Regions from separate parts of the Homo sapiens genome. Here region 2 is linked to region 1. A link means that fine-mapping ties the variant in region 1 to the expression of a gene that starts in the linked region. Tissue or cell type: whole blood. Region 1 holds a variant in brackets; the other region holds the start of a gene. All regions are shown on one strand. Distances are from middle to middle.

What was found. PIP is the estimated chance that this variant, and not a neighbour inherited with it, causes the effect.
Region 2: it holds the start of SP100, and the variant in region 1 is fine-mapped to the expression of SP100 in whole blood (INTERVAL, PIP above 0.99).

Annotation. Positions count from the first base shown.
Region 1 is chr2:230,468,935-230,471,434 of GRCh38, reverse strand. It overlaps SP100 (SP100 nuclear antigen), which reads right to left. Exons shown (of 29, transcript NM_001080391.2): 14 at 2,339-2,392; 15 at 1,337-1,420. The region is part of intron 3 of LOC101928816 (a long non-coding RNA gene); the gene reads left to right. Among named protein-coding and RNA genes, the nearest start is that of SP100, 54 kb to the right of the region's middle. The variant G/T (reference allele first, on the strand shown) is at 1,056.
Region 2 is chr2:230,414,393-230,417,245 of GRCh38, reverse strand. It overlaps SP100 (SP100 nuclear antigen), which reads right to left and starts at 1,045. Exons shown (of 29, transcript NM_001080391.2): 1 at 918-1,045. The coding sequence starts at 949. RefSeq lists an enhancer at 879-1,398.

The DNA of each region.
Region 1 (2,500 bases):
CAAGGAAATAATAGACTATAGACAGTGACGAGGAAACCAGGGAACCTGTCTCAATGTGGTCATGCTGAACTATTTTCAGAGCTTAAACGGACTGACAAAAAAATACACCTATATCAATGAGTACACCTCATAGCCCTACTCTATCTGGCCACACTTCGTTCTCCTTCTCACTTCTCATTTTTCTGCCCATTGCCCTGCTGCTATACATTTTTGTCTCTGTCTCTTTGATTCGGTGAGCTCATCTCCCTTTGATTTATCTTGTCTCCTGTGTTGCTTTTTCTGTTTCCATCAATGATGTTCTGTTCTCCTTTATTTCTATGTTTATCTATTTTGCTTCTGTCTTTCTAGGTATTTTGTATATTATATAGCTGGTTCCATTCCTATTATCTCTGTCTGTTTGCGATTTTTATTTTTCCCTCCCCCTAAAGATTATATGTATTAACCAATATACATATATACACACACATATGTGTGTGTTTATGTATGTATACATGTTATATGTAACAAATATATGCATGTGTACACACACACACACACACAGTGGTTGTTAAATAAGCTTTCTTGCATCAGGCACTGGTATAGTCTCCTGTGAATATTCTGAGTTCCTTGCGCATCTTCTTTGGACTTTGACTTAAATGACACAGCTCTTATCCTCCTGTCTGTTACATACAACAGTCACCCACCGTGAGACACCTGGGTTGCTAGTTTCTATTGTTTCTTTAGTTTTTTGGCCCTAATACTTCTGTACATCTATTTCCTCACCCCAAAATGGGTATAGTTAGCCTGCCTATGTCTTAAAAATTTTGTGATGACAAAATAAGATATTATTTGCCAAAAGACATTGAAATAACACAATATAATCCAATTACATGATGAAGGACATCTACCAAAAACTATACTAACGTTTGAGAGTGTTTGATCTGAAGTTTTTATTTCTGTCTATAATTACATAGTAGGAACAGTTGTCTTTTGAGGCTTTACAATTACAAATGACAATGATGTCAACCCATTTATCACTATAAAAATCTAAGATCTTAGTGTTAATAGGAATGAGA[G/T]CAGGTTTAAAAAAAAGAATACCACAAATTTGCTATTTATTTCTTCTACAACAACAAAATATAATTACATACATTTAGTCAGTGAAACTCTTTCTGTTAAACATGAGTTTATCATAATTTCCTGCCTCTTTCCATTTTCTAAAATGCAAAAAGGAGTTCCCAGATGAACTGGATACAAGGTAGTGAAGGTGCTCAGAATAAAAAGCGTCTGGAAACAGCAGCTTTTAATTCACATTCCTGACATTCTGCAGGCCAAGTCTTGGCATCCTAATCTTCTTTACCTGACCCTCTTCTTAGGGATGAGCTGCAGGTTTCCTGAAGCTCTTCTCCATTACTCAGGTCTGAAAAGTCACTACTGCTGAAACCTGCAGAAAAAAATAAAATTCCTTAACAGTCTTAGTCTGAGTCTTAGGAATCAGCAGGGAATTCTTTAAAAGCAAAACTGAACAAGAGAAGCTTGTGGAGGAGGGGGAGAAATAGTCCCACCACTAGGCCACCCTTTGGCTTTGATCATCTGACCTGTTGGTCAAGATTGCTCCAGGAGCCCTCTCTGAGGCTGGGGCTGGGGATGACATTGTTTCTTCTTCTTTTTTTTTTTTAACTTTGGGAAAAATATGTATTTATTATAAATCATCCATTTCATTGGGTGGTTTCAAATTAAGAAAGCAATATATGCTTGTCATAAGAAGACCAATGAATGCAAATGTATATAACCCCAAAGCTCTCTTTTCCTACCCTATTCTGTCTCTGGTCTCCCAGCTAGTGAAGTCAACAGATCAGTGTGGATCCTTCCATCGTTTTCTCCTATCTCATTCATGCATAATCAAATAAAAGGAACATACATAATGTTCAATCTTTTCTGAATACAATCCTAGGACAACGTTGTTTCTTACGCTTCTTAGGCTTTCATTATTAGTTTGCACATACTTCTGCTTCCATCTCAGTTTCTTATCCAAGGGAACCATGGAAGCAACATCTTAAAGATGTCAGAGCCCCCATCAGCTGGGCCCTGAATGACTGTGTGGGCACCCCCTCTACTCAGGAACTACTTTATCCTATTTATGTGAGTGAAAAATAAACTTATGTTGCACTTGTGCCTTTGAACATTTTGAGGCTTATGTTTTATACCAGCCCAACTCATCTAATTGAAAATGTAAAATGCAAATCATCTAAAATCCCAACAAATTAATTTTTTATTTTAAAGGATATAACATAAAAAGTGAATGTAGCTTTTGCAGCAAATAAAGACATTTGTTACATCAAGAGTTTTTAATTGCTCTTACGTCTCTTCCTGCTGGGTATTCTCCAAGTAGATGTACTTCTAGAAGTCATAGGAGCTAGAAAGTAAAGGAAAACCAAATCAATAATATCTAACTAAAAGATCTATAAATCTTATGACTGCTTACACTGTTGACAGAATTTGGACTATAAATATTCTATGAGGA
Region 2 (2,853 bases), 54 kb after region 1:
TATTATAAATCAAGAACATAAATTACGTATTTACAAAAAATGCATTAGATATATAAATGCATAGAAAAATATAAGAAAAGCTGTGCCCAAGACTCTTCACAGGACTGGGAAGAGAAGCTACAAGAATGGCTGAGTGGCAAAGATGACTTTTTCCTTAATATACTTCTCCACTGTTTTAAATTTTATGAACAATAATGTACAGTGTATTTCTTTTGTATTAAAAAATTTAAAAGATTAAGTAATGTTATTTCTCAACTCACTACTAGAGAAAAGTTAGGATTTCCTTCTCTTTTCTGGTCAGAGGTATCCCCCATCTTGGGACAGGAAATTGAGGTAAAAATGAAAATATTTAGCCGTTTGTCACCCTGGGCCTTTTTCTTCCCTTTCCTTCTTTTGATCAAGGTTGATGGAATAAGAACTCAGACCCTGAGCCAGTCATGGGAACAGCCGGCAGAGGCCCCTTGCCAGGACAGGTGAGACCACAGCGTCTGATGTTTAAAAGTAAGCCAGGTGTTTACCCTGGAGTGTTTATTTTCTAAAGCACCTTTTTTGACATGACATATTTGAAGGTAGAGGAAGGCTGAGGGGTGAAAGGGTTCACAGATCATGAGGAAATAGTTAATCCCAGCCACCAACAACTGCTATGTTTAGAGTGTCCCGGTCAGCTGAGCAGTAAATCCAAAACAAGAAAGTCACGTGTGTTATGGCAAGTTGAACTCACACCAACAGCTGTCCTGCTCCTGTTTAAAAAATCTGATTTCCTCATTACTTGTCTTTCATTTCATTATATAACATCGCATACCTATGTTCTTGCAAAGAAGGATTAAAGTGAAGCCTTAGGCACAAACTGAACTAAAGGCATGAAAGCTGCAATATAGCCAGAGATAAAGGTTAAAGGAAGGGAGATAAAGACTCACCTGGTGCTCAGGTCGCCGCCCCCACCTGCCATCTTCCCACCCTAGGCCCTGCGTGGGCCTCAGAGCCTGGCCTCTGAGCCCCTCAGTCGGCCCAGCCTGCGTGCAGTGTGGCTGCCCAGGCCCCAAGCAGGAAGTCGGCCGACAGACTGACTCAGAAAGGGCTCCGCCCAAATGGGGAAAAGAGAAGTGAAAGTATTTAACCTCCTTCTGGGCTACGGACACTGTGTTTCTCCTCCTTTTTCACTCCAAGGGATTCTCAGCTTTTCTGAAATGTGGCAGAGGGTTGGAGGAGAGGCCTGACAAGCAGCAAGACCTGCAGGACCAGGGAAGGAGGGCCCAGGGGACGAGCAGGGCCAGCTCCCGGGTGTCCACTTGTTTGTGCAATACACAGCCAAAAAAAATGTCCTTGAAACAAAATTGTCCTTAGCTGCTCTGCCCTCTAAGAGGGGGCATAGTTTACATGGGAGTTGGGGGGGAAACTCCATGTTTGCCCCTTCCCCTTGCTGACATGGCTTGGGGTGGGAGTTGGAGGGTTGGAGGGAAAGCCAGAAACCTCAAATCTTCTCTCAGGCCCATGGGAGAGCATGGACTGGACTAAGGTAGGTCCTGACATTGGGACCCAGGGCTGGAGAGAACCAAAATGCTCAGCATTATAACCTGGGGAGAGTGTGCTTAGCCTTCCTGGAAATCAGCCAGAAGTAAGAGAGAACTCTCCACACCCCTGGGACCAGAGGCTGGAGCCAGCATGGTAAGAAAGGCAAACATTTTAAGGGGCAAGGGTTTAAGGAATCTTGACTATGGGGCCGCCTTGGAACAGCCAGGGGTGAAGAGACACCTAAGCTTCGGAGAAGTCACTGGAATCTTGAGAGAACAAAAGCTTCTCATTGGAGGAGGATGGAGGTTGGAACCCAGATGATCTAGACATGGAAGGGCAGGGTGGCTCCCGCGGGAGGTTCTATCTCTGCCCAGATTTTCCATTTAGATTCTGATTCATCATTCCTCAGAGAACAAGAAGCGACCGAGAAGACTCGCTTTACATCAGTATAAAGTCATAGGTAAAGAAACAGAAGCAAAGGGCGCATGAGAATGGGGCCACAGGACACAACCAGGGACCAGAACTCCAGGCCGGACCATGGGGCAGAGACAGGGAGGCAGCTGGGAGCCTGGGGGCGCTGGAATCCAGGGCCCAAGGTGAGCAGAGGGTGGAAGCTGGTGAGGATTCAGGGGCCAGAGGGGATGGCACTTCAGAACGGTGTTTTCCAAATGGCATTCTACTGAATCCAACTTCTTCCAGCTGTGAATAAGGATGCTTGTCCAGGTACATTTGAAAATGTGGGGGAAGGGGCTTTCTACCCTCACTCTACTTCTGCTCTTCTTTTCCCCATGAGTGAATGACCAGGCACCAGGACATTGGTGAGGACAGCTTTGCCGGTGGGCGAAGGTCACTGTTTCTATCAGGCACTGCACACCTGTAGGTCTCTCTCTCTTTCTCTCACCTGTAGGTCTCTCTCTCTTTCTCTCATTCTTCCTACCCCCCATGACTCCCCGACTTTATGGGGCTGAAGGGCTGGTAAGCTGAGCCTCTTTTGGGCACAGCTGTCCTTTGATCCCAGTCTCCATGAGGCACATTGGTCCCAAGAAGTCCTGGCATGGACCACACAGTATGCTTTGGTGTGGTTCACGTTCTCCCCTCTCGCTGCCTCTGGGCAGCAGGCAGGCTCAGGCCATTGAGTGGCACTGACATAAACGTGCCAGCTTTTCCCTGGATGTGCTTAGGGGCTACTAAGAGCAGCACCTGGAATTCCAGACCAATGAGCCACAGGCTGGCAGGGAATTCCTTACGGGTTGAACTTCACGGGCAGACATGCCCATGCTGGGGCACCTCCTGGCAGCAGGGAAGGAGATGTTCTCATCAGATGAGGTTGGAGACAGATGA